7 linked regions of the Homo sapiens genome follow. The protein of the gene in region 4 interacts with the protein of the main gene of each other region in a biochemical or structural test. Each region holds a gene or a part of one and is shown on either strand. Other genes may lie near its edges. The genes, in order: GNA15, FSHR, PLCB1, GRK2, PDE6G, HDAC6 and RHO.

Region 1 (3,875 bases), on a different chromosome or scaffold from region 4:
GAAAAGGAGAGACAGACTAGGAGAAAGGGGAGGAGAGAGAGATGAGATGGGAGAGGGAGGCAGGGAGAGACACAGAGAGAGAGGCCAAGAGTGCCAAGAGCACCAAGGCACCAGACATATGGGGGAAGAAGCCATCTTGGAAGTTTATCTCCAATCCCATAGAGCCCAGCTGATGTCACATGGATCAGAGATGAACTTACCCAGCTCAACCTTTCCCAAATTCCTGACCCACAAAATCATAAGCAAAGGAAAATGACCAGTTTAAGTCACTAAGTTTGGGGATGGTTTGTTACTCGGCAGTAGCTAAGCAGGACACCCGCCACCACACTTTATCCTCACAGTGGTGTTCTGGGGAAAGTGCTAGTGAATATGTACCTTCCCCACGTTGGTCCCTGGATTAACCACAACTCTGCCTCCCCTTTGTAAAATATACTAAGTGGTGCCCAACACTAGATGGTGTTTCTCTGTAGTTGCCCTGTGGCCCTTTCACCCTCTGGATGGACTGAGAGTTTGTTCCCAAACCTGTTTTTGCCCATTGTACGTGTCTTGATTCATATGTAATTAAAAGAAACGTTATGCAAATCTGTAGCTACAAGTGCCGCATGAAAGAAGGTCATTGTATTACAAAACTAAGCTGTGTGCTTTGGAAACATTGTTCAAAGCTCTGCTTTAAAAATTAAAGAGAAAGGCCAGGTGTGGTGGCTCACGCCTGTAATCCCAGCACTTTGAGGCCGAGGCGGGTGGATCACCTGAGGTCGGGAGTTCAAGTCCAGCCTGACCAACATGGAGAAACCCCGTCTCTACTAAAAACACAAAATTAGCCGGGGTGGTGGCTCATGCCTGCAATCCCAGCTACTCGGGAGGCTGAGGCAGGAGAATCCCTTGAACCCGGGAGGCGGAGGTTGCGGTGAGCCGAGATTGTGCCATTGCACTCCAGCCTGGGCAAAAAGAGCAAAACTCCATCTCAAAAAAAAAAAAAAAAAGAAAAGAAATTAAAGAAAAAATAGACTGGGCACGATGGCTCACGCCTGTAATCCCAGCACTTTGGGAGGCCGAGACAGGTGGATCATGAGGTCAGGAGATTGAGACCAACCTGGGTAACATGATGAAACCCCATCTCGACCAAAAATACAAAAAACTAGCCAGACGTTCTGGCGGGCACCTGTAATCCCAGCTACTCGGGAGGCTGAGGCAGCAGAATGGTGTGAACCCAGGAGGCAGAGCTTGCAGTGAGCTGAGATTGCGCCACTGCACTCCAGCCTGGGCAGCAGAGCGAGACTCCGTCTCAAAAAACAAACAAAAAAAAATTAAAGAAAAAATGGATTAAAGAAAAAGAAATTGCTATCCAATTAGGGATAGATGAGATCACTATGAAAGATTAGAAAAAGAAACGTTATGGCCAGATGCGGTGGCTCACGCCCGTAATCCCAGCACTTTGGGAGGCTGAGGTAGGTGGATCACTTGAGGTCAGTTCGAGACCAGCCTGACCAACATGGTGAAACCCCATCTCTACTAAAAATAGGACAGGAAACTACTAAAAATTAGCCAGGCTTGGTGGCACGTGCCTGTAATCACAGCTACTTGGGAGGCTAAGGCAGGAGAATCACTTGAACCGGGGAGTTGGAGGTTGCCATGAGCCAAGATCGCACCACTGTACTCCAGCCTGGGTGACAGAGTGAGACTCTGTCTCAAAAAGAAAAAATAGAAGAAAGAAAGAAAAGAAAAAGAATCATTCTTAAAACCTAGGCAGATTCTGGAAATAGTAGACAATCTTTCCAGAAGTGCTTTACAACAGTGACCTCTACATAGCAAACCCATGCTTGAAGGATCTTGGCTCAAACCCCAAATGTTGGCCAACAAGCATAAAATAAAATGTTTGGCCGGGCATGGTGGCTCCTGTCTATAATCCTAGCACTTTGGGAGGCTGAGGCGGGTGGATCAGGAGGTCAAGTGATCGAGACTATCCTGGTCAACATGGTGAAATCCCGTCTTTTCGTACTAAAAACACAAAAATTAGCTGGGCGTGGTGGCGCGCACCTGTAGTTCCAGCTACTAGGGAGGCTGAGGTAGGAGAATCGCTTGAACTCTGGAGGGAAAGGTTGCAGTGAGCCGAGATCACGCCACTGCACTCCAGCCTGGTGACAGAGCAAGACTCTGTCTCAAAAATAAATAAATAAATAAAATGTTTAAGGTGTACGTGATATGCTACGTGTTTTTAGAATTCCTCACTTTACTCAGTTCCAAGGGCCTCTGCTATTTTATTCCATTCCACAGAAGGGAAAACAGATTCAATGAGGTCGGGCAGTGGATGGAGCTGAGTCTAGAACGCGGGTCTGATCCTATGTGAAAGTTCCGGTGACTCCAGGCTGAAGTAGAGTCTGGATTAGCATCTCTCTTCGGAGCTGCTTTTGGGAGTTGAAGGGTATAGAAAGTTCTAGAATTACTTACCCTGGAAACTGGGGAAATAGGTAGCCAGGTGGGAGGTGGGGATTTTCTCCTCCAGGATGTCGGTTTTGTTGAGAAAGAGGATGACGGATGTGCTTTTGAACCAGGGTAGTTCCAGGATAGTCCCAAACAATGCGAGGCTCTCCTTCATGCGGTTCTGTGTTGGGGGCAGAAGCAGGTTAGTGCTTCAACCAGCCAGGTGGGACAGGAAACCCTCCCATCGCGGAGACGGGGCTGTTGGCTCCAGGGGCATGGGCTCACCCCTATCTGCCTGGCTGGGGCTGAGGCGGGTGTGCCCGTGTTTCCATATGGACAGCTGCCTGGGTGTGCCTGACATGGTTTTGTGCCTGTGCTGGTTGGAAGTGTGTCCTCCCGAAATTCATGTCCCCCCAGAGCTTCAGAGTGTGACCTTATCTGGAGAGAGATTCTTGAACTCCTGGCCTCCCAGCGTGCTGGGGTTATAGGCATGAACCACTGCACCTGGCCTGGAGATAGGGTCTTTGAAGAGGTCGTTAAGGTGAGGCAATACTAGAATACGGTGGCCCTCAAGTCCGTGACTGCTGTCCTCATAAGAAGAGGGAGACCTGGCCGGGCGCGGCAGCTCACGGCTGTAATCCTAGCACTTTGGGAGGCCAAGGCGGGCAGATCACCTGAGGCCAGGAGTTGGAGACCAGCCTGGCTAACATGGTGAAACCCCGTTTCTACTAAAAATACAAAAAATTAGCCGGGCATGATGGCAGGTGCCTGTAAACCCAGCTACTCGGGAGGCTGAGGCAGGAAAATCGCTTGAACCCGGGAGGCGGAGGTTGCAGTGAGCTGAGATCGCGCCACTGCACTCTAACCTGGGCGACAAAAGCGAGACTCCATCTCAAAAAAAAAAGTACAATAAGGTCTCAAATGCCTTGTGTTATGGGGTACATCATATTTCCCCAAAATTCATACGTTCAAGACCTAACCCCCTAGAACCTCAGTTTGTGACCTTCTTTGGAAACAGGGCCATCACACGAGGAATTAACCCAGATGAGGTCGTACTGGAGTAGGGTGGGCCCTGATCCTAGACGACTGGTGTACTTATTAAAAGAGGCTATTGGCTGGGCACAGTGGCTCACGCCTGTAATCCCAGCACTTTGGGAGGCCGAGGCGGGCGGATCACGAGGTCAGGAGATTGAGACCATCCTGGCTAACATGGTGAAACCCCCTCTCTTCTAAGAATACAAAAAAAAAATTAGCCGAGCGTGGTGGCGGGTGCCTGTAATCCCACCTACTCCGGAGGCTGAGGCAGGAGAATGGTGTGAACCCGGGAGGCGGAGTTTCCAGTGAGCCGAGATCGCGCCACTGCACTCCAGCCTGTGCGTGTGCGTGCATGTGTGTGTGCACGCATGTGTGTGCCTGTGTGCCTGTGTGTGCGTGTGTGTGCCTGTGTGTGCGTG
Region 2 (3,875 bases), on a different chromosome or scaffold from region 4:
ATAATGTCAGATGCAAACAATACACGGGTTTCATAATTGGAAGCACTGAGCAAGGGCAGACAGCACAGGTTAGTGGCATAAAGAAAATGCCACTTTTAAAGCTTGGGGACACGGGTGGGAGGAAGACTGATTTATTGCTGTATAATCTTTTGTAACTTTTGAAGTTTGTATTACTTGCATGTATTACCTATTCAAAGGATTAAATGAAATTTAAGTTTGAAAGGCATACTTAGGCAGAGCAGCCTGGATTCTATAACTGTAAGGTCTTTACACACATCATTTGTGTGTAGAGAAGCAATGCGGGGAGCGACAGATCTTTCTCATCCTGAAGGACAGGAATCGTACAATTATTGAACAAGTGTTTATAAGACAGAGAAAGAACATTTTGTGTCACCTTTCTCTAAGGCCTTAAGCCTTTCACCCATGATCACCCACAGCAGCAGGCCTGGCTGTCATCAAAAGTGATCTAATTAAGTTGTCAGACAACCTGAACATCTCCTGTGACCCATAGGGACCTGGTTATTGGAGGTTTGTGGAGGTGGCTCTGGGTTAAGCCAGAAAGGAAGAGAAATCAATTACAGAGAATGTGGGCTGTGGCAGGGTGAGGTGATCTGAATGAGCAGGGGAGGAGGTTCTGGGGGAGGTGGAGATGGGTGTAGAACAGCCATCCTGATTGCGCTAAGAAGGTCAGTGAGCAGGGTTCCCTGGACAGGGGAGCCCAAGGACACCTTGGGCTACAGCTCTGCCTTGCTCTGCTCCTGAGTGGATCTGAAAACAAAAACAGATACCAAGGTCAGGAGAGCTTAGCCCGAAGAACCTCTGACTACCTGCTCTTGTTTTGCTGTCAGGTTCTTTTCCCTGTCCAGCTTAGTGGGCTTGCAAATAACACTGTACAGAAAGCTGACCCAGAGAAGCTCCTGTGCATCCAGGACTCTCTTTCCTGGGCTGCCATGGGTAGCCAGAAAACACTTAAAATCACAGGAGAACAACTGTATGTCTTTTTCCTCCTCTTGAAAACCAATTACCTAAAAAAATCCAGAAAGGGGCGAGGCAAATCTTTTAAAACATTCACAATCAATTGGTGGGTTCTGATGGCAAAGAAGTGGCTATGCACCCCCAATGCCATTTGAGAAAGCCTCTCCCAGGCACATCTGGACTCCTGACTGTTGCAGGATAGTGGGAGTTGCTGAGGTAGCTGTGGCATGTGGATCCCTGGGGATTTGAATCAAATACAGGATTCAGCAAACTTTTTCTGTAAAGGGCCTGATAGTAAAGTTTAGGTTTTATGGGCCAAAAGGCAAAAATAAAAAATATTATATAAGTACTTTATGTACTTATAAAACAATTACCACAATTTTTTATTGACCAAATTCAAAGTGTAATAATTGGGTATTTTTTTTTTTTGTAATATAGGCCTAATATTGAGAAGAGAATTTTTAGTGGGGGATAACATTTTGCTTAACTTAGATCTAATGTTAGTGTTTCCTGTCTTAGCTCATGAGCTGGATTTGGCCTCTGGGTTATATGTAGTTGGCTGACCCTTAATCCATACAGGTTCCACCTATTTGCCTATTGACTAGATAATTAATATTTCTTGCATATTACTGTCCTGTAAATCGATGTTGCTATAATCAAATAAAACATAAACTAATTTTAAATAATTATTGTATTCAAATATCCCTTTGTCTTTATGGATTATCTCAATCAACAGATACCATTATATGGGGAGGAGGATGGTATTTCTTGATATCAGCAGTGGATCATCACACAAAAAAAACAAATTATGTTCAGAACTGCTGCCCTTGGATTTACGTTATCTGTGGGAATCTCAAGCTAGTAACAAAGGGAAACCCACATTTATTACACGCACCCCTGGTCTCTTAAGAGAGGAAGTACCTATTTGAAAACCAGATGATGACGATGATGACGATGATGACGATGACTACAACAACCTGGGCAGAACATCAACTAAGGAGTTACTGCATCACAGGCTTACCTTAACCCTTTTGTGTCCTTGGGGATGAGGCCAGTGTGCTCACTCAGCAGAGGCTCAGGAAGCTACAGAAGTGAACTTTGCTCTCATCCTAAAGAGTGGAGGTGCTGGGGACTTGGCCCTTTAAAACTCATTGAGGGGCAGGCAAGGGAGACGGGCAGACTGAGGAACAGAGGAAACACGCACGAAGCAGGTCTCTCCTGAGGCCCGAGTGTGCTGGGCACTGTAACGCATATCACTCATTTTATTTCTTCTGAATTAGGACATTATTCTCCTGGCTGGCCATAGCTAGGTGCTTTCCCCATTCAGGCACTCTGCTTACCAGGGCACAGTGCGGGTGCAGAAGGGCTCAGAAGCCTCTACACAGTGGGTTTTTATTGCTCACTTCTCTGATTCACTAGGCTAGTGTCTGATAATCTTTCATTGCTGGTTGCTTTAAAAATACATTTACTTTTAGAACAGGGCCTCAGAATTTTTTTCAACTTTCAGTTTCAGGGGAGCAAGTACAGGTTTTTTTTTTTTTTTTTTTTTTTTTTTGAGACGGAGTCTCGCTCTGTCGCCCAGGCCGGACTGCGGACTGCAGTGGCGCAATCTCGGCTCACTGCAAGTTCCGCTTCCCGGGTTCACGCCATTCTCCTGCCTCAGCCTCCCGAGTAGCTGGGACTACAGGCGCCCGCCACTGCGCCCGGCTAATTTTTTGTATTTTTAGTAGAGACGGGGTTTCACCTTGTTAGCCAGGATGGTCTCGATTTCCTGACCTCATGATCCACCCGCCTCGGCCTCCCAAAGTGCTGGGATTACAGGCGTGAGCCACCGCGCCCGGCCGCATGTACACGTTTTTTACATTAGGTAGTCTGCACGTCATGGGGTTTGGTGGACAAATAATTCCATCACCTGGGTAATAACCATAGTACCCAATAGATATTTTTTGTGATCCTCTCTCTCCTCCCTCAGGTAGGCCCCATTGTCTGTTGTTCCTTTCCTAGAATCCATGTGTTCTCATTGTTTAGCTCTTACAAGAGTGAACATATGGTATTTGGTTTTCTGTCCCTGTGTTAGTTTGCTTAGAATATTGGCCTCCAGCTCTATCCATGTTGCTGCAAAGGGCATGATCTTGTTCTTTTTTATAGCTGTGTAGTATTCCCAGAATTTTGAAAATTGCTATCCATAGAATACTTCAACAGTCATCAGCGCCATTTGCCATGCTTTTTTTTTTTTTTTTTTCTGAGTGTGCTCAAATGTCCCCATGGGAAGAAAACACCCCTGCATCGAAGCTGCCAAACTAGAAACGATTGGAGACTTAAGTTGTGTTAAGTATGAATTACATGATTTTATTGTCTATGGATTAAGGGACAGCCAAAATAAGAACAATAGAAATTGTTTCCACAAAAGTGAGTTTATCCTTTAGAGACATGTCTGAGAAACATTCACTCTTAAAAGAAAACTCCTTTCCTGAAAAGTGTGTTCCTAAATTCTGAGAGATCAGTGTCCATGAACAGGAGTTAGGAAAGAGCAGACAGGATCTATATGTTTCCCTTGTAGCTTTGGGTTTGCAAAGCTATGTCAGAAGTTCTTATTTCCTCAGGTTCTTTGCCTCTAGTTGGGGAGAGTTGAGACCAGGTCACTTAAAGTGCTTTGCCTTCTGTCTTACGGTCTGGACAAAAAAGTCAGATCAATGATACTGTGAGAACAATATAAGCACACTATGCAAAACTACAAGAATGATATGAGCACACTCCCACTTAATTATATATTTTCTATAAAAAAATTGAATAAGTTTGCCATATTATAACATTCATTTAAGTCTATTTAAAATGAACATATATTTCAAGAAAGATCCAAATAAACATAAACATCTAGGTATAAATGTTTACATTTATCA
Region 3 (3,875 bases), on a different chromosome or scaffold from region 4:
AATATAATGAGCTATCTTGCAGGCTCTTTGGTTCTCTGGGTCTTCATGCTGATCAGTGGACTACAAGGGACCCAGCCTTTCTTAAGGTTGCCTTTCTCTTCCCCAGGCATCCCTTTTCTACTCTTCTCAGCTCGTATTTGCCCTTCCAGAATCAAGCCAGTTCAAGTTATCTGGCTATTTATATTGTACCTTAGTGAGACAGTGTGTTGAAGACAAAAAAGAACCAGATCTTGAATCAAAGGCCTGAGTTTACCTCCTAGTTCTTTCACCAGTAAGCTGCATGACTTTAGGCAAATCACTTAGCTTCTCTGTATTTTTGCTGCTTCTTGTGTAAAAGCGTGGTAATGTTACAGGACATTCAAAAATGATGAATTTGGGGCTGTTTAGGATGTGAAGAAATTATCTCTTGTTCCTGAAGTGATTAAAGCAGTATAATCACTGGTCTTGTTGTCTTGACCACCATATGGAATGGAAGATGTCACCCAGAGGTTGCAGTGCCATGCATAATTTGCTGGCCACCTACCAAGTCACAGTGAGGCTGTGGATGCTCTAAGGGTGGTAGTCGAAAGCTTTAACATAGGCACTAAACAATCACAACAGACAGCAGGGGGGTAATAGATCCTGGAGATACCCTGTTGTACCAGGGCCAGGCGTTAATATTTTTGCTGCTTGGTCATGGGGAGGTCTGGGAGTCCCCAGGGTCTGTGGATGGGTGGGTAGGTAGCTGGAGTTTTTTTGACTATTTCAGTATTTTAAAACTCATGGTGTATATTGTCTGAACATCAAGGCTATACCTGTCCTTCTGAACTTGGCATGAAGATAAAGGACTGACCTAATGATATTTAAAAAATTCAACCTCATGTCTTTGCTTTTGTTTTGCATTTGTCTGTTAGCAGGCTCTGGTGGTAGGAGGTGGGTGTAAAGGACTATGGGTATTTGTGGGAGAATTCTGGTGAGGTAGACAGTGGAAGGAGAGTTACTTTCTTGATCTAAGCTAGGGAGCTTGGGAGATTGTGAGAGAAGCTCCTCTCTCTTCTGGATCTTGGCCTTGGTCTATATTGGGCAGGACATGGAGAGAAAGAGCAAGGACTGTAAACTGTACAATAGGACCCCCAGCCACTGATTTGGCCCTGTTTTCCATGCCTAAGCACTCTGTCTCACTGTCGCACAACCTCTGAGGGATGGAAGGGTTTTCATTTATTTATTCCTTCTGTTTCTTCATTCTTACCTTTCAAATTCAGATCTTACTGTGGGCAGGTTGCTTAACGCATCCCAACTTCAGTTTCCTCAACGGTAACATGCAAATTGTAATATTTCCTAACTCAGAACAGCTGTTGAGGTTAAATAAATGAATGCATATGCATTGCTTTGTATAAAGCCTGACATACAGGCAACCTTCAATAAAACATGTTTTTAAAAGTTATTGTCGGCCGGGCGCGGTGGCTCAAGCCTGTAATCCTAGCACTTTGGGAAGCCGAGGCGGGCAGATCACAAGACCAGGAGATCGAGACCATCCTGGCTAACACGGTGAAACCCCCTCTCTACTAAAAATACAAAAAATTAGCCGGGCGTGGTGGCGGGCGCCTGTAGTCCCAGCTGCTCGGGAGGCTGAGGCAGGAGAATGGCGTGAACCTGGGAGGCGGAGCTTGCAGTGAGCCGAGATCGCGCCACTGCACTCCAGCCTGGGCGACAGAGCAAGACTCTGTCTCAAAAAAAAAAAAAAAGTTATTGTCCCTCAAAAATAAGATGGACGTGAATTTTATCAAGGTGATTAGCAGGTGTTCTATGGCTCTTTTATTCTACTAGTGGAAAAATTCAGACCTTACTTCCATTCCCTTTAATGTGTGTTTTGATTTTATACTTTATAATTTGGAGAAAAATCAGGTTTCTCACCTTCTTTTAAAAATCCAGGTGTTTCACGGAAAATAAGTACGTAATTTAGAGCAGGATCCATTCTCTACAGCAAGTCAGTTTACAAATAATCCAAAAGTTTATTTTTACTTAAATTCCATATAAAATATATTTATGTATATATGTGTATATAATTTAACATTGCACGTTCTGTCTTACAAGCATATTCTAACATGGAAAAATAATTGCTAGACTAAGTTGTCTGAGAAGTCTGATGAAACTCAGAAGTTTGGATTTGCGTTAATGCCATCTGGATTTGAATCAAGTAACTCCCTCCTTTACCACACCTCCAACCCCCACAGCTAAAACAGGTAATTTAAGAAATACTAGTATATTGCACACTTCCCAGCATCCTACACAAAAGCTTAGAACTTTTGCATTATGTGGAATCTGCTGTTCCAGTTTCCAAAATGATGACAAGTAAATGATGACAAGATGACACTCACAAGATTAATGAGAGAGCAGAGGGGAAAAGGGTTTGCGAGGTGGGAATTTAGTAGCGTTCACTTTGGAAAGGTTATGGGAAACAGGGAGGAAACTTCTCTGAGTTGGTAGCTGGCTGATGTGGATGGAGCAACTACAAAGTGCAAGGTGGATTTTAGAATGGAAGGCTAGCAGATGCCCTCTAAGGAGCCACTTAAATTTGCCCAGTTATGTCCATTTTTCTTGTCCAAAGAGCTTTGAGAATTTCTCATTGGCAGTCAATAATTACTGTAATCTAAGTGTAAGAGCATAACTCTTTTGCAAGCAAATCAATAAAACTACTTGAAACTTTTTAAAAAATCAGTGTAACATGCGTACAACAAAACACACAAATCCTGTGTCCAGCTGGATCCATTTTCACAAAGTGAACATTGCCATGTCATCAGTACCAGATCAAGAAACAGCATCACTTGCCCCAGAATTCCTGAGTGCTCTCTTCCAGTCCCTACGTCCCCTTCTAAGGGTAACCCTTATCTTGACTTCTAACTTTATAGTTTGGTTTTGCTTGTTTTTAATCTAATAAGCTATTTTTACTTTGAATGAAAACTTTAAAAAAAACCTCTTCAGCCTAAAACATTTTTATTATTGCTGAACTGATCCTCTTGAACAACAGCAACAAAAGTGACTTACAGTCAGTTTAGATGGCCATTGATTGGGTTCTTGTCTGTCCCAAGTCTGGGAAGTATAGCAGGTATAGTAAATGCCCTGAAGGAGCAAACAGTTCAACAAAACCCTAGTAATTTACAGAGGAAATGTAATGCCTTCAGGCTGTTATTGGCATGGCAAAGCTGACTAGTACAGTACTGTTGCTGGAATATAATTTTCTCTCATAGGTTTTCTCTCTTATCTTGCTTAACACTAATATTTCCCCACCTATGGTGAATGAGGATAATTTGCAGTGGCTATTAGTTTCATTTGAAAGTTTAGCCTATCAGTAAATAGCTTCAAGTTATATTTATCTGCAATGGTATATAAATGGAATGGGAACATTTTACTTTTTTATGTGGGATTTGGTAAACTGTAAATGTTTCCTTATCAGAATTGTTTCATGTTATCATGAACAAGAATCGCCAGCAGAAAATGGAAGGGGATTGCTGGTGAATTGTTGACTAACGCTATGGGTCTCCACTTAAATAACAAACCCCTGGTAACTGAAATCATTGGTCTTCTTGTTACTGGAGCTAATAATTAGGTTCATGCAACCTTTCAGATCATATCATAAATTCCAAATGCTCAGGCATATTTCACAGTCTTTTCCATCTAATCTTTTCCCTTTCTGTTCTATGTCTGATCCCCCTAAGCAGAGCCTTGTGCCCCTATGTGTAAGTAGGCAAAGGAAATATAGACATATTTCTGAGGTCATTTACATATATGACCATAAAAAAGCCATTGATTTTTGTAACTAACTAACTGAAATAGGATATAAAGGAACTAACTAATTGGAATAGATTATAAAGGATGCTTATGTTCTTTAAGAGTCT
Region 4 (3,875 bases):
TGGCCATTGTGACCCTCAAAACCCAACCCGACATCCCCCACCCTGTTTATCTCACCCCACACTGAGTGCTGTCTGGGAGCGCCACACCAGGCTACACTCCCGGCCTCAAATACCACCTTACTGTCCCCTCCTGCCCTCTCCTGGCCCACCTCAAGCCCAGCCCTGCCGGTCTGTCCCAACAGCCAGCTGAGGCCTGCATCTGGTCCTCACTAGTCTGGGCTCCTGGGGTAACGTGTAGCTGCCATGCTGAGGGCATTGCAAGGCTGGGGGCCTGAAGGGACAACACACCTGAGCCCATGTCACGCTCACATGGCCCTGCAGGTCTATGGGGCCACCAGCAGGCCTCCCGTGAAATGACTGCAGCTGGTGGAGATTTGGATCCGCAAGTCCAGGTTCTCTGTGCTTGCCATGGCCCCTGCCTTTCTGCACCCCGGCCCTGCCTGCCCCTAGGAGCCCAGCCCAGGGCTGGTCGGACTGGCCACCCAGGCTGTGGTCACGAGGACCCGCTGCACATCTACCCCTGAGGCACTGTGTACCTCATGCCAAAGCCACCCCCTGCTCCAAACAGCCCTGCCCAGGGCATGGTTCTGAGCCTGTGATACCAGACAGCGTGTGCAGAAGCCTTGGGAAGGAGAGGAGGCCTCTGGGTCTGGAAAGCCTGTGTGGAGAAGGTGGAACTCCACTGGGTTCCTGGAGTGCAAGTGGGATCTCGGCAGCTGGCGAAGCCAGGGGGGTCGGTAGACGTGGGAACAGGCAGGGGACAGTATGTCCAGGGATGAGCAAGGGGCCAATGGGGCAGGAGAGAGGGCACACAAAGGCCATGGTGAGGCGGAGGGCAGGGCCTTGCAAACCAGGGGGCTTCACAGCCAAGGAGTGGGCAGGAGAGCAGGACTCAGGAGGCTTGGTCCAGGGCGGTGGGTGGCCCGACTCCACTGGAGGCGCCACGCGGAGGAAGCCCAGGCAGAGGCAACACTTGGGCAGGAAGAAGGGGAAGGGGGTGGGTGGGAGAAGGCTCAGGCTGTCGGGGACCGGGAGAAGGGTTATGAGGCCAGCCCCGTGAGGGCTTCCAGGCTTTGGGCCCGAGGGTCTGGAAGAATGGCAGCTTCAGCCAGAAGAGCCGTCTGCGGAGAGCAGCTCCAGACAGTGCGGACCTGGCCTGTGGACCCTGCCTGGCCTCTGACCTCGGCCTCGAGAGGGGGCTCTTATCCGCTTCCACTGGGCACTGTCCTTCCAGGAAGGGCTGCAGTGGACTCCCGGGCCTCGGCCCCTGATCTCACTTGGTTCCAGCCTTCCTCAGGAAAGGCCGAGCGAGATAGCACGAGCACAGCAGGGCTGCCATGAGCACGGTTCCAAGGCCGCGACCCCCTGGCCTGCTCCCCACCCTCAGAGGCTGGGAGGGGCCGCGGCCTCTTCCAAAGTTGTCTCCAGCAGGAAGCAGGGCACTGAAGACAAGGATGGGCCTAGGTGACCCTGAGTTCGCATCCTATGACTGCTTTGGAACAGACCCTGCCTGGATGGGAAGAGGGGGGCCCATGCCCCCCACCGGGGAGTGAGGATGCCCTCTGAGAACTGACAGGAGCTCCGAGGATGGGCCCCGCGTCCACACCAGCACACCCGCCCCTTCGGGCCACACGCCAGCTCATGTCCACCAGCCACCGTCAAGGACATGTTTCCCGGCATGTGGGACTCCCAGGGACACAGGAAACGGTGGACGGAGATTGTGGTGTTTCACACACAGCAAGGGCTTCATAAAAATCTCTTGAATTGAGAAAGACACGGTCCCTGCCCTTGGCACCTGCAGACAGGAGGCCTGGGCCCTGGGCGACCCTCAGGGCACAGGCTGTGCACTGGGAGACTGGAACGTGGAGAAAACCCCAAGGTCAGGGGCCTGCATCTCACCTGGGAGGTGGGCCAGGACATTTTGGTCCACAGAAGGGGATGAAAAAAAGCAAAAAAAAAAAAAAAAAAAAAAAAAAAGGTGCTGGTCAAGCGGAAGGTAGCGACAGGCAGATGCAGATGACAGGCAAAGCAATCCCAGCCTGTAGGGGTCACCCACCAGGAGCCGGGCATTGTCCCAGGAATGGGGGCCACCGGGCTTCAGCAGTAAGCCCCACTGAGCCCCAGACTTGCTTCTTAGGAGCCTGCAAAAATGGTGCCAGCTTGGCGGGACGCGGTGGCTCACGCCTGTAATCCCAGCACTTTGGGAGGCCGAGGCGGGCGAATCATGAGGTCAGGAGTTTAAGACCAGCCTGACCAACATGGTGAAACCCCGTCTCTACTGAAAATACAAAAATTAGCCCAGCATGGTGGCGTGCGCCTGTAGTCCCAGCTACTCAGGAGACTGAGGCAGAAGAATCGCTTGAACCCTGGAGACAGAGGTTGCAGTGAGCCAAAATCGTGCCACTGCACTCCAGCCTGGGTGACAGAGTGAGACTCTGTCTCAAAAAAAAAAAAAAAAAAAAAGGTGCCAGTTTGGCAGAGGGAATGGCCACCTAGGAGCCAGGGAGTAGCCACTGCCACTTTTCAACTGGACACACAAAGTCTCCAAGGGGGAAGCATGCTTGGTTCCCTGCCTGCGACAGCCAGGGGAACCTGCCGGGCAGGCCCTTTCTCCTTCCCAGGGGCTCTGCTGTCAGCCCCGGCCTGGGAACAGCAGGAAGCAGGACCCGGGGCTCTGAGGCCATCTCTCCCCTCAGCAGCCACGCCTGGGCATGGCCACCACATTCTTCCCAGCCCACAGCACTCCACTTTCTTCCTTAAAAAGAAAAAAATGTTTTTTAAATAAAATAAACAACCCCCCTCCCCCCAAGCAAGAAACCAAACACGAGGTCAGGCCTGAGCAGAGTCCTTGAATGGAAGGCCCCCAAAGTGGCAATTTTAGGGTTTCCTGTCTATTCCCATGGGTCTGGCCGCCAAGGGAACTGGCAGGTTGGAAGAACTTGCCACTGGGGGCAGCTCCTGCCAGGGTGGCAAGCACGGGCGAGCACAGGGGTGGGACAGCCTCCTGGACTGGGTCACCTTGTCTCCAACACTGCTCCCTGATACTGGCAGAGTCTGGAGTGGCAGTGAGCCCAGAGCGTGTCCCTGTCCCCCACCCAGGTCAGCAACCCTGAGATCCGGGGGAACGTGGCTCCCAAGATCTACTCTGGAGCATCAGGAGAACCAAGCGGCCTCAACAGTCCCAGATGGAAGGACGCTAAGGTTCCCAACACCTTTGGGCAAGGGCCTCAGAGTTGCCTTTGCTCTGGCCGTTGGACGGGTGCCTGGGTTCCAAGTGGCCCTCACCACCTGGTCACAAACTTGAAATGTCCAGTTTCCCCAGCTGTAAAATGAGGATGTCAATGAGATGCTGAATCGCCACCGTCACACTGGCCATTTACAAAGCCTGGGTGGACACGGCAGAAGGAGGGCTTCTAATATGCCAGGCTGGCCATGCTGCCCGCCGTGCCCCGCCTGCTGGGCCATGGGAGAGAGCCGCCAGAGCCCCATTTCTCAGTGCCCCACGGCTCACCGACAGTCCATGCTAGAATCACACAGTAACTGGTCTTGCTCAAGCCTCTGCTCCACATTTGCCGTGTCCTCGGAGAGGATGGGGCCTTGGAGGATGGGGCCTGTGGCCAGGGCTGAGCCGAGCAGGGTGGGACTCCTCTGCTCACAGACCAGCTTCAGGCACTGCATTGCTCTACTGCGGGCCCAGTGGGTAGAGCCCGTGGCTTGCCCTGCCAAAGTATCAAGGGCTCCTTGGCACAGAGGTACTTGGTGCCCACCCAGCTTTGGGAAGGAGCAGTCAGTCCCACCTTGGCACCCCTGCAGTTACAGCGGCCTGCACCAGCTCCTACTGCTCCCGGAGCAGGCTCAGCCCAAGACAGTGAGCA
Region 5 (3,959 bases), on a different chromosome or scaffold from region 4:
CCGCACCCAGCCTATTGTTATTTTCAAATACAGACAGGGTCTTGCTATGTTGCCCAGGCTGGTCTTGAACTCCTGGACTGCAGTGATCCTCCCGCCTTGGCCTCCTAAAGTGCTGAGATTATAGGCATGAGCCACTGTGCCCAGATACAGCCAGTTTTAGTGGGCACTGTCTAAGGACGAGCTGGCTGGGTGCTCTGGGGGAGTTGCTAGTGTCACTGTGCCTCAGTTTCTCTCTTGTGAGGTGGGAGTAGGAGCTCCGGCCTCACGGCGTGTGGTGTAAGCCATGTCCAGTCTCACCTTCTCTGTGTGGCCTGTTCCAGCCACCTGCATGCTTCATTGACTATGGCCCCTGGGTGTGCACCAAGGCCTTCTGCCTTGACCCAGCCATGGCCTGACATTGCGTGTCTTGGGGCCACCAGCAAGGCTCAGTGAGAGTGTGAGCCCAAGGGCTGTCTTCCCACTCAGGCAGGCCAGCCCCTCCTGCCCCACTGCCCACCCCTTCCCCCATGTGCTCCGGCTCAAGTGACCCCACCACAGGCCCTGTCCCATGCACAAATATGCCACAGACAGGCAAGGACACACTAATTTTATTTTGAAATAGGGACTGCAAGGGCAGGCTGTATTGAGAAGGATGGCCCCCTGGTGTGATGAGCTTGGGGCCTCATCTGCTCACCGTGCACGCCCTGGAGTCCTGCTACCCAGCATGTCCAAACTAAGGGCACCCCCCTGGGAAGGGATGCAGAGACGGGGAGCTTCTCTGTATCCCCTTACAGGCAGGACAGGGGGCTGGGGTGCAGAAGCACTCTGGGGAGACCTGCCCTAGCTTTCCAGCTGGGAGGAGGGGACGATCTGGGGTCCAGCAGGCTCCCGGGCTGGGGTCCACTTCCCGTTCTCCCTGGGAGTGGAGACCGACCAAGCCTCTCTGTGGGCAGGACTGAGGGGTGGGCCTGTATCTCCAGATGTTGAGCAGGGCCTGGCCAGCCCCTGAGGGGGCATCCTAGAGGGAGGTGGTGGGCTCCTGGTGACTGGTATTAATATGTAGGGGGAGACCTGAGGTTGCAGTCCCATCCTGGTGTCCAGGTGCCATCTGGGCTAGGGAGGCATCTCCTCAACAGGAATCCTGAGCAGGGTTTAGAGCACAGTGGGCAGGAGGGGGAGGGTCTGGACTTCAGCAGGGCCTCGTGCTAGATGATGCCATATTGGGCCAGCTCGTGCAGCTCCAGGTGGTTGAAGGCCTCCCAAGGGCAGATGACTGTGATGTCTGTGGGAGAAACGGGCCACGGATCAGAGAGGATCCCACGGCCTAGGGACCCCCCCATCCCCTGTGGCCCTGTTTCCCACAGCCCAGGTGTAGCCCTACAGTGTGCTGAGCGGGGACGTGCGGACGCTGGAGTGGGGCCCTCCTCTGGGGACACACTGGCTGTGGGGGAAGGAGGGTGGGTGCAGCAGGTCCAGGGGAGGGAACCAGAGGAGGGTGGGGCTTGCTGAAGGGGGAGGAGGCAGCGAGGGGTTCTGTTCTTTCCCAAACCCCTCCCCTCACCTGGTGCAAGTGTCCCAAATGGGGACAGCCCCACCCTCTAGATCCAGTGGATCTGGAGCTCAGTGTTGGGGGAAGAAGTGATGGACAGGCTGGGGGTCCCTAAGTGAAAAGCAGGGGAGGTGGGGGCCGAGGTGGGCTGCAATGGGCCCCGGGCGTGCTGGGTGTGCCTGGGGGGACCTGGGCAGACCTCGGGTTGGTACTGGCAGCCGTCATACCTGTTCCCAGGCCTTCCATTCCAGGGATGTCGTCCCCAAACCTGCAAGGACAGAGCACTCAGGGACATGGCCGGGCCCAGTCCTGGCTCAGTCAGCCTGAGGCCCGAGGTCATCTCTAGCCTTCCTAGGAGATGAGGTGTTTGGCTGGGAGCCCAGTGGGCAGAGACCCGCCTCCTCCCCAACCTCCCAGGGCTTGGCGCATCTGAGGAGGCTTCCCTCACAGACCCAGGGTGAGTCTGCTGCCCAGAGCATCATGGGGCTGAGGCCTAGAAAAGGAGGTGCAAGTCCCAGGATGCTGGGCAGGTGCGTGCCCTGGGGGAGTACGGGGGGGTGCGTGGTTGGTGCATGGTCTGAGTGTAGATTTGTGAAGGTGGCTTGTCTGTGAGTGTGCCTCACGTGCATATGTGGAGGTGTGAGCGTGTTTGTGCATAAGAGTGTCATGCCCGTGTGTGCGCACACGTGTGAGTGGACACTCCTCGGTGCGTTGATGGGAGCGCGGTGCCTGTGTGCGCACACGAGTGAGTGGACACTCCTCGGTGCACTGATGGGAGCGAGATGCCCGTGTGTGCGCATGTGTGAGTGGACACTCCTCGGTGCATTGTGCCATGGCTGTCCCTGGGTGGCAGTGGTTGTATTTTTTTTATTTATTTGAGACGGAGTCTCACTCTGTCGCCCAGGCTGGAGTGCAGTGGCGTGATCTCGGCTCACCGCAAGCTCTGCCTCCCGGGTTCACACCATTCTCCTGCCTCAGCCTCCCGAGTAGCTGGGACTACAGGCGCCCGCCACCACGCCCGGCTAATTTTTTGTATTTTTTAGTAGAGACAGGGTTTCACCTTCTTAGCCAGAATGGTCTCGATCTCCTGACCTCGTGATCCGCCCGCCTCGGCCTCCCAAAGTGCTGGGATTACAGGCATGAGCCACCGCCCCCGGCCGTTTTGTTTTTTTGAGACGGAGTTTTGTTCTTCTTGTTGCCCAGCCTGGAGTGCAATGGCGCGATCTCAGCTCACCACAACCTCTGCCTCCTGGATTCAAGCGATTCTCCTGCCTCAGCCTCCTGAGTAGCTGGGATTACAGGCGTGCACCACCACGCCTGGCTAAATTTGTATTTTTAGTAGAGACAGGTTTCTCCATGTTTGTCAGGCTGGTCTCAAACTCGCGATCCTAGGGGGCTACTTTGGCAGGTATTAAAACTTTTTTTTAGGCCGGGCGCGACCTCAGGTGATCTGCCCACCTCAGCCTCCCAAAGCGCTGAGCCACCGCGCCTGGCCGGCAGTGGCTGTATTTTCAAGCATGGTTGGCAGTAGCATCTGGAGCGGGTGACAGGAGCCCCCAATTCCCCTTCCCCCTCCTCCATCCCTGCTCAGGCCCTCAGGCACCGCCCTACCTTCCCCAGCTGTGAGGCTGGGACCACTCACCCAGTGAAGTGGCCCCAGGCTCTGCCCCGCCCTCCCCTTCCTGTGCAGCCTCAGGACCGCCTCCTCCCTTTCAGAGGCCCCATCCCCCAGCTCTGCTTACCCTTGAACGCCTTTCTTTGGGGGCTTGCTCTTGAACTGCCTGGTCTGTCGCTGCTTAAATTTAGGGGGCCCTTTCCTGGGGGTGACAGGTCCCCCGGCCACCCTGGTGGCTGACCGGAACTCAGCCTTGGGCGGTTCCAGGTTCATGGTGAGGCTGACGGAGACACCGCGGCAACCTTGGCTCCTGGACTCCCTCCTGCTGCGGTCTGGGGGCAGACCAGGCCCGGGTCCCAGTCAGCCCTCCTGCTTCCAACCCTTGTGGGGGTCTCAACCCACCGGTGGAGGGGCTGAGACCCAGCCCCGCCAGCTCCAGCGTCATCCAGACAGCAGCCCCTGCAATCCGCCCTGGGGTAACCAGCCTGCCAGCTTTGCTTGGGTCCACCCGCACGCTCCCATTCCCCTTGCCTAGTGGATGCCCCCCTGCAACGCTGGCCACACACAGCTCCGGACTCCCCCCTGTCCTGGCCTCCCTCGCCCCGGCCCACAATCCACAGCAAACCTAGCCTCCCAACCTGTGGCAGGTCCTGAGCCTGGAGTCCTCACCACCTCCCTGTGGGTGACCACTGACAACTTCCTGCCCCTTCCCCTGCGTTCCCCACCCCAGGGAAGCGTGACTCCCGTCGGCATTTAACTGCTACTCTGGGTTTTTTTTTGTTTTGTTTTGTTTTTGAGACAGAGTTTTGCTCTTGT
Region 6 (3,872 bases), on a different chromosome or scaffold from region 4:
GCAGATCCAAAGATGCACACCGGCGCCCAGGGTGACAGAGCGGTGCTCACACCCTTTCCCTCCCTCCCAGAGTCAGCCATACACAAGCCACCAGCCTCCTAGCTCACACAGAGGGAAGGCAGCTACCTCCCAGTCAGAGACATACACACAAACAGCCAGGGCAGACAGCCAGACAGTGACTGCTGTCACACACAGCCTTCCACATCCAGAAGGTCCCACACAGGCTGTCACAGAGATGGTTGCATTTAGTGACATACAGTATCACACCCATCACACAGAGAAAAGGTGAGAAATACCTGCCTGCACAGAGTCGCACACGCACATACTCAAGCACTTGTGATGGCACGCACATACAACACAGATCCAGCCAGGACACGGGCCATTGGTGCATAGTCAGAAGGCCCTCACACACACAGCCAAGACAGTCACTCACACAGTGTCACACAGAGAAGGCAGTCATGTACAGCCATCTGTGCACAAATACACAAGGTGATCACAGCCACCAACTGCCCTGGTAGCCTCATTAAACACCCATGCGCTGTCTCATATCATCAGCCACATGGTAGTCACACACACACATGCCAAGGAGGCAGGTCCAGGCTGCCACCTGCACAGGCGTGTCACATACGTCCTGCGATCTATCCTGAGCTGTACCTCGTAGGCAATGGGAAGCACCAGGCGATGCCAGGCAGCTAGGTAGTCAGCATCACCCATGCGGGGCCCGTTCCATGCCACGTTGACGGTGAAGCCTGTGCCCGCAGCCCGGCCGATCTGGCTGCTGGCACCCTCATCCCCCATGGGGAAGAAGGTGCCATGATCATAGCGGTGCAGGGACACATATAGCACACTGCCAGGGAGGGGGTGGGAAGCGGACCATGGCTGGTTAGGGGCTCCAGTACCCCTGAGGTGCTCACCCGCCTCCCTGATCACACTGCGGCCCCTGACTGCAGCCCTTACCTGGGGTCATCCTCAAACATGTGCTGAGTTCCATTACCGTGGTGGACATCCCAATCCACAATCAGGATCCTGGGGAGGAGACAGCACCTCAGTAACCGACGATACTCACGCCCTGGAAGAGGGCTGGGCTAGACCCCTGGGGTCTGCAGGGGCATTTAGTGCTGAGTGGCAGGACCCTGGGTCCTATCAGTTAAGGAGAAAAGTCTGATCCTGGTTCCCAAGGGCTGCCCGGTAGGCCTGAGCAAGTGCTCGGGGCTGGGCCCTGGGCTCTTCTGGGTCATTGCTAGGGAACTGGACCCTGGGCCTTGGGCAGCTAATGCTGGGGGCTGGTTCGTGGGTCTTCTGGAGTATGCATCAGGAGCCTAGACCTGGGTTCTGTCGAGGCAGCTGCTATAGGCCAGAAATGCTGGGGTGGGACCCTGGATCCTGTTTTGTAAGTGCCCAGGTAACATGATCTGGGGGTCCTATCTAAATAAGCACTGAGAGGCTCCATCCTCGGTCCTTCTCTGGGTAAGGACTGCACCCTTACTTCTTTCTGGGGAAGGAAGTCCTGGGAGCTGGACCATGGGGCATGAGTAAACAATGGGCTGGGGGGAGCATCCAGGTCCCCACAAGGATCAGGATTTGGGGGGTCCCCAGGGAGTCCTTACCGTAGGGCATGCCCACTGATAGTCTGGGCATGGCGAGCAGCCACAGCCACAGAGTTGAAAAAGCAAAAACCGCAAGCTGCATCCTGCTCTGCGTGGTGTCCTGGGGGACGCACCACAGCAGCACCATTCAGAACCTGGGAAGCAGCAGGGTGCTAAGATCGGACAGCCTGCCCTCACCTTCCTTTCTTCCTTTTTTTTTTTTTTTTTTGAGACGGAGTCTCGCTCTGTCGCCCAGGCTGGAATGCAGTGGCGCCATCTCGGCTCACTGCAAGCGCCGCCTGCCAGGTTCCCGCCATTCTCCTGCCTCAGCCTCCTGAGTAGCTAGGACTACAGGCGCTTGCTGCCACGCCCGGCTAATTTTTTGTATGTTTCTTAGTAGAGACGGGGTTTCACCATGTTATCCAGGATGGTCTCGATCTCCTGACCTCGTGATCTGCCCACCTCGGCCTCCCAAAGTGCTGGGATTACAGGTGTGAGCCATCACGCCCGGACCTTTTTTTTTTTTTGACACAGGGTCTCACTCTGTTGCCCAGGCTAGAGTGCAGTGGTGCAATCATGGCTTACTGCAGCCTTGACCTCCTGAGCTCACCTCAGCTTCTCAAAGCGCTAGGATTACAGACGTGAGCCACTGCACTTGGCCACCCTTCCCTTTCTCCAGTTCCTTCCATTATTCCCCCAGCCTCTAGGCCCACCCCCTCCCGTGCCCCTCCCCATGGCCCCTTTCCTCAGGCCCTGCTTGACTCTCTCAGAGCCTCCAGAAACAGCAGATGGCTCTCTTTTTCCATTCCCCCCAGGTCCTCCTCTCCCCAGCCCACAGAGGACACACCTCTCCTGAGAGCACAGCCTCCACCAGGCGGCAGGCAGCGCCAGTGGCAAGCTGTGCACAGGCGAAGGTACTGGGGCAGATATAGATGGAGTCAAAGTTGGAACTCTCACGGTGCAGCTCCCGGGTTTTCATTTTCTCTGTGGCCCGGAGATGACCCACGTACTCAGCACTGGAAGCACAGAGAGGAGCACCCGCAGGACAGTGAGGAGGGTCTGTCCCCTCCCTGGTCCCCACCCCTAAGACAGGGACTTCAGCCCCTCTCAAGTCCTGCAGCAGCTCCCCAGGAGGGGAAACCCAAGTTCCAGCCCCTGAGACCTCATCCACAGTCCTGGGAATCCACCCACCCCAGGCACCGGGGTCTGACCTGTGACAGGTGAGCAGCTCAGCCTCTGTGGCAGGGCGCGGTGTCAGGGTGAGGCAGCGCCCGGCAAGGCCCAGCTCCTCCAGACGGCACATGATCCGCAAGATGCGCTGGGGTACCTCAGGGTGGTGGCTAGCAGTGGGGAAACGAGAGGTAGAGGCTTAGTGCCTGAGGGGGAGGGACCCCCAACACCTACTCATCCAGCCCTCCAAATGCCTACCTGTCCCACAAGTTGCAGTGATTCATCATATTTTGGTCATAGACCAGCCCTGTGCGAGACTGTAGCACTGGCCATGTCAGGATTGGGAGCACAGGGGGCTCCCAGGGTCCTTCCTCCTCGCTCTCCTCTACATTGTCCTCCTCCATGTTGTCCCTCTCCACGGTCTCAGCTAAAAGGGGGAGGCCACGTTTGTCCTACCCTCTCAATCTGAATCCCCGTCATACTCTGGAACTCAGGTGACCCAAACAGAAAAAGGGGTGGGAGGCCTGAAACCAGGGCCCAGGGAGAGAGAGAGGGCCTGACCCTCTCCCACCAAGGCAGCCCAGTAAAGTCAGAGGAAGTCTGAAGACAGTCTCCCCCAGGGCTCATCCCACGTCCACCCCACACCAGGCCCACACCCCACTTCCTACTTGATCTCACAAGAACCTCCCAGAAGGGCTCAAGGGCTTCCAGAGCACAGGAAACTGAAGCCTGGGCACTGCAGGGCAGGGAGAAAATATGATGTCAAGGAATGTGGGCGGGCAGTGAGGCTCCCGCTTTCCCCTCCTCCACCGGGGCTCACCTCCGGCAGGGGGCACCAGGTGACTCCAGCATGGGGCAAGGGTCTCCCAGAAGGGTGTGGAGCGAAGCACTGACGCCTTCAGCCAGGGCGCGGAGGTTGTAGCCACCCTGGGGCAAGGAGTTGTGAAGGGGGATCAGGAAAGGACCAGACATGACCAGGGAATAATAATAATGATGATAATAAGAGAGTGCATACCACATGTCAAGCAACAAGGAACTTAGAAGGGTGCCTCACTGAATTCACTGGACAATGATATGAGGTGATTACATTATGCTCGTTTTATAGAAGGAAAGCGG
Region 7 (4,481 bases), on a different chromosome or scaffold from region 4:
AGGGGTAAGAAATGGACCCTAGCAAGACTGAGGAGGAAAGGGAAGTGAGAGTGGGAATTTTCTGGAGACAGAGGGACATGAGGCCTCTGGGGACCAGAGTCACCAGTCCTATTGTCCAAACCACTGTCCCCACTGTGTCTCATCTCAGCCCCATTAGGAGACAATCGCCTAGAGGCTGAGTGGGACCCAGTTCCAAGGGGCCACAATATGGCCACCTGCACTAGGAAGGTGTGGCCTCCCCTGCTGCTGAGGCCCAAGGTTAGAGGGGGCTGCCCCCGGGGTACTAGACCAAAGAGGATTGGAATTTGCGCCTAGCTTAGTTGAGGATTAGGGGCACAGCCAAGGTGAAGGGTTGGGATGTCTTGGATTCTGTTTGACATGGGGCTCAGGAGATGGGACCAGCCCTTGTAGCAACATTAGAGTCTGTTTCTTCTTCTGCCCTACACCCCTACCCTGAGTGGGCATTTGGGCCAGGAGACATACAAGGTCAGTGCCTGGAACCAGACACTACTGGGTTTGAGTCCTGACTGGAGGACCCTACAAAGAGCCCCCGGAGCTTCTTCCCTTCTGCTCAGTGCCATTACCTGGACCAGCCGGCGAGTGGGGGTGCGGCGCAGGCCAGCGCCATGACCCAGGTGAAGGCAACGCCCATGATGGCATGGTTCTCCCCGAAGCGGAAGTTGCTCATGGGCTTACACACCACCACGTACCGCTCGATGGCCAGGACCACCAAGGACCACAGGGCAATTTCACCTGCAAGGCAGTCAGCAGGCGGTCAGCACAGACCCCACTGCCTAAGGAGGGTGCACTCCCCCCTAGACAGGGAGAGGGTAGCTAGGAAGGCAACCAGGAGTGGGAGAGGGATTTGAGGAGGCCTTGGGGAAGGAGAGAGCTTGGTGCTGGGAGGAGGGGGAAGGGGCAGAGGGACCACACGCTGAGGAGAGCTGGGCAAAGAAATTCCAGGGAATGGGGGAAGTTATTTGCTTAGCGCTCTGGGCCCATAAGGGACACGAATCAGATCAGGGGGTCAGGATTGAACTGGGAACCCGGTAGGGAGTTTTGTGTGTGTGTGTGTGTGTGTGTGTGTGTGTGTGTTGTGTGTGTGTGTGTGTGTGTGTGTGTTTAGCAGAAGAATGCATCCTAATGTGGGGCAGAGTTCCTTGTTGGGAAGGAATGCAGAGGTGGTGGAAACCCAGAATTGGCAGTCCTTCCTCCCTCTCCCTTCTCGGGAAATGAAATAACCCGGACATGTGGGGGCCTCTCCTAGGAGCCATGAAGCAATGTGCAATGTTTTGCCCAGAGGAAGAAGAAGGAAATGATGGAATTCAGACATCTGTCCTGCTCACCACCCCATGAAGTTCCATAGGGAGAGTGGCCATATAGTTAATCAACCAAACTGGGACATTCCTAACAGTGAAAGGGACAATATTTGTAAACTGGGACTGACCCTGCAGAGAACAACCACCCGTAAGTGGCACACCCACCTTCTGGCCAGAACTGAGTGATCTGTGATTATTGAATGCAACAAACACCCAACAATGGCCAGAGATTCCCTGAGAATGGGACCGAGGCAGCAGCCTGGACATGGGGGAGACAGGGCAAGGCTGGCAGAGAGACGCTTGTGGCTGGCGGTAAGCTCTCCCCGTCACCCAGCTTTGCAATGGCTGCTTCTAGCGTCTCCTCCTGCATCTCAGCAGAGATATTCCTGGATCACAGCCAGGAGACCTAGGCTCTTGTTGCTGCCTGGCCACATCCCTAAATGAGTCTCTTCCCCTCTCCCTGCCTCAGTTTTCCTCTCTGTTAAGTGGGATCTGTTATCCCTGCAGCACCCCATCTGTTTTCCTGTTAAATGCAAGACATTATTCTAAAGCAAAAAGGAACTGCTTCAGAGCGGCTGCTTGCGGTTCTCAACACCAGGAGACTTGGAACGCGGCAGGGAGGCTGGAGGGGCACCTGAGGACAGGGGCTGAGAGGGGAGGCAGAGGATGCCAGAGGGGACCGAGCCCATTGCCCAGCACAGGGAAGACCCAATGACTGGAGAATGGAAAATCCACTTCCCACCCTGAGCTTGGGCCCCCAGAGAGGAGGGGTCTGGCTTGCCCAGCTCTCCCTCAGTGCCCAGCCTGGGTCTGACTCAGCACAGCTGCTCCAAGGGAAACAGAGGCTTGGTGCTGCAAACATGGCCCGAGATAGATGCGGGCTTCCAACTCAACTCTGCACCCGTCCCTGTGTGACGCCCCAGCAGGGCGCTTGACTTCTTTGAGCCTCAGCTCAGTTTTCTTGCTGTGAAATTAGACAAGCGCATATTGCTCCAAATAAGATCAAGGCAGTGTTCAGTGCCAGCCCTGCACAAACAGCAGCCCGGCTATCACCATGAATGGTGTTTGTTGACTGAATATATGAGGGCTTTGGATAACATTGACAGGACAGGAGAAGGGAGAAGGCCTCTCAGCCACCACCGCCAAGCCCGGGACTCTCCCAGACCCCTCCATGCTCCCGGGCTCCTGCACACCCCACCCACACCCGGCTCATACCGCCCAGGGTGGCAAAGAAGCCCTCCAAATTGCATCCTGTGGGCCCGAAGACGAAGTATCCATGCAGAGAGGTGTAGAGGGTGCTGGTGAAGCCACCTAGGACCATGAAGAGGTCAGCCACGGCTAGGTTGAGCAGGATGTAGTTGAGAGGCGTGCGCAGCTTCTTGTGCTGGACGGTGACGTAGAGCGTGAGGAAGTTGATGGGGAAGCCCAGCACGATCAGCAGAAACATGTAGGCGGCCAGCATGGAGAACTGCCATGGCTCAGCCAGGTAGTACTGTGGGTACTCGAAGGGGCTGCGTACCACACCCGTCGCATTGGAGAAGGGCACGTAGAAGTTAGGGCCTTCTGTGCCATTCATGGCTGTGGCCCTTGTGGCTGACCCGTGGCTGCTCCCACCCAAGAATGCTGCGAAGGCCTGAGCTCAGCCACTCAGGGCTCCAGCTGGATGACTCTGGGTTCTGACCCCCCCAGACCCTTATAAAGTGACCTCCCCCTCCTAAGCTCCTGGCTGAATCAGCATCTGGGAGATTGGGGGTGTTCATAATCATATTAATCCCCGCTGCAGAAACTGAGGGCCTAATTGGCTTCTAAGAGGGGCCAAGGTGACACTAGGAGGAAGCCTGAGGTCAGGGAGGAGAGGTACTCAGGATCCAGGAAAAGGGAGGAGAAGGTCCCCTAACTTCTGCATGACTTGTCTGTCCCAAGGTCCCAGCTCAGTCTGGTGGCCTGGGTTTGAAATAGGGACCATGGGCCTCTGTGCTATGTCCTCTGGACAGCTAGAGACTTTCTGGTTTATTCTCCCAGTCTCTCATCTCGTCACACAGCCCCTTACCTGTTCGTTCCCCCACAAGTTACCTCTGGAGTCATCCAGTCCCCACACTCCTCTGACAGGAGGAGCTCCATGAGGGCAGGGGCTGCAACCTGCAGCTTCCGTTTCTGGTGCCAGACACATAGCCTAGGGCCCAGGAGCCCAATCCTTGTTGCATGGAATTGGAATTCACTCTCTTGTTCGTTCATTAAACATTTATTTGCAGGCCCCTGGGAATACAAAGATGGAAAGAAACAGCCCTGCCCAGAGGAGCTCAGGGGCTGAGGAGGACTCAAATGTGGGAAGAAGCAGATTCCGTCCAGGGTGGCTGTGAGGTTGTGGAGACAGGGCCTGACTGCCTGGGGGTTGCAGTCTGGGAGGCCATGTTTGGGCCTTTGAGAGAAGGAGCAGTTTGCCAGGTGGCTAGGTGGGGAAGATCTGGGCTGGGGGCAGTTGTAATGGGTCTTGAACGCTAGGCCGGGGAACCTGGCTTTATCCAGAGGAAAGTGAGCAGTGGCTTGGGCAGATCACTGGTGTAGAAAGGTGACTCAAATGCCCCCAAAGATGGAGTGGAGGGAGGGAGGATGGAGGGGGCTACCAGAGCAGGGGAGGGGCAGAACCCTTCAGGGGACTCCAGTCTGAAGGGGAGGCTGGCCCTGGAGGCAGCAGACAGGGCACTGTTGGGGGAGGCCTAATCAGCCACGAGGGCCTCAAATGCCATGTACCAGGTGGCCCCACGAGGGCCGATTCCAGAATAGCAGGATGTACCGTGAGAAAGAAAGTAGTCAGAGCCTTGGGGGCAGATGACTGGGGGAAAATGGAGGCCAACACTGGCAGGTCCCCCTCTCCCCGTCGTCCAAGCAACATGATGACACCTCCCAGGAATGAAGTGGGGTGTCTGGGGCGGCCTGTGCAAGTGCTGAGAGTGCCCGACGTGCGGCCGCTCAGTGACCACTGTCCAGCCAACATGTGTATTGAGCACCTACTGTGGCCCAGACAAGGTGCTTGGTCCTTGGGGACACACAGGGTACACGAAAGAGCAAGCTCCTGCTCACAAGAAGCCAGTGTTTTTGTGGGGTGAGGGGGCACAGGGACCACAAACAAATAGAAGAGCGAATAACAGTAGGGACAGTTCA

Evidence for each region.
Region 1: the proteins of GRK2 (region 4) and GNA15 form a complex in vitro, tested with the Homo sapiens proteins (one study listed by BioGRID).
Region 2: of the proteins of GRK2 (region 4) and FSHR, one has a biochemical effect on the other in vitro, tested with the Homo sapiens proteins (one study listed by BioGRID).
Region 3: the proteins of GRK2 (region 4) and PLCB1 form a complex in vitro, tested with the Homo sapiens proteins (one study listed by BioGRID).
Region 5: the proteins of GRK2 (region 4) and PDE6G form a complex in vitro, tested with the Homo sapiens proteins (one study listed by BioGRID).
Region 6: of the proteins of GRK2 (region 4) and HDAC6, one has a biochemical effect on the other in vitro, tested with the Homo sapiens proteins (one study listed by BioGRID).
Region 7: the proteins of GRK2 (region 4) and RHO form a complex in vitro, tested with the Homo sapiens proteins (one study listed by BioGRID).

The regions. Positions count from the first base shown.
Region 1 is NC_000019.10:3,156,455-3,160,329, reverse strand, and holds part of GNA15 (guanine nucleotide-binding protein subunit alpha-15), read right to left. Parts: intron 2,603-3,875; coding exon 2,449-2,602; intron 1-2,448. UniProt on the Homo sapiens protein: Guanine nucleotide-binding proteins (G proteins) are involved as modulators or transducers in various transmembrane signaling systems.
Region 2 is NC_000002.12:48,983,195-48,987,069, forward strand, and holds part of FSHR (follicle-stimulating hormone receptor isoform 1 precursor), read right to left. Parts: intron 1-3,875. UniProt on the Homo sapiens protein: G protein-coupled receptor for follitropin, the follicle-stimulating hormone. Through cAMP production activates the downstream PI3K-AKT and ERK1/ERK2 signaling pathways.
Region 3 is NC_000020.11:8,134,917-8,138,791, forward strand, and holds part of PLCB1 (1-phosphatidylinositol 4,5-bisphosphate phosphodiesterase beta-1), read left to right. Parts: intron 1-3,875.
Region 4 is NC_000011.10:67,272,598-67,276,472, reverse strand, and holds part of GRK2 (beta-adrenergic receptor kinase 1), read right to left. Parts: intron 1-3,875. UniProt on the Homo sapiens protein: Specifically phosphorylates the agonist-occupied form of the beta-adrenergic and closely related receptors, probably inducing a desensitization of them. Key regulator of LPAR1 signaling.
Region 5 is NC_000017.11:81,649,890-81,653,848, forward strand, and holds the end of PDE6G (retinal rod rhodopsin-sensitive cGMP 3',5'-cyclic phosphodiesterase subunit gamma), read right to left. Parts: intron 3,838-3,959; exon of another isoform or gene 3,769-3,837; intron 3,476-3,768; 5' UTR 3,417-3,475; coding exon 3,271-3,416; intron 1,797-3,270; coding exon 1,756-1,796; intron 1,262-1,755; coding exon 1,185-1,261; 3' UTR 570-1,184; downstream 1-569.
Region 6 is NC_000023.11:48,815,195-48,819,066, reverse strand, and holds part of HDAC6 (protein deacetylase HDAC6), read right to left. Parts: intron 3,684-3,872; coding exon 3,577-3,683; intron 3,493-3,576; coding exon 3,425-3,492; intron 3,184-3,424; coding exon 3,015-3,183; intron 2,927-3,014; coding exon 2,798-2,926; intron 2,603-2,797; coding exon 2,434-2,602; intron 1,742-2,433; coding exon 1,608-1,741; intron 1,027-1,607; coding exon 958-1,026; intron 848-957; coding exon 655-847; intron 1-654.
Region 7 is NC_000003.12:129,527,148-129,531,628, reverse strand, and holds the start of RHO (rhodopsin), read right to left. Parts: upstream 2,991-4,481; 5' UTR 2,896-2,990; coding exon 2,535-2,895; intron 754-2,534; coding exon 585-753; intron 1-584. UniProt on the Homo sapiens protein: Photoreceptor required for image-forming vision at low light intensity. Required for photoreceptor cell viability after birth.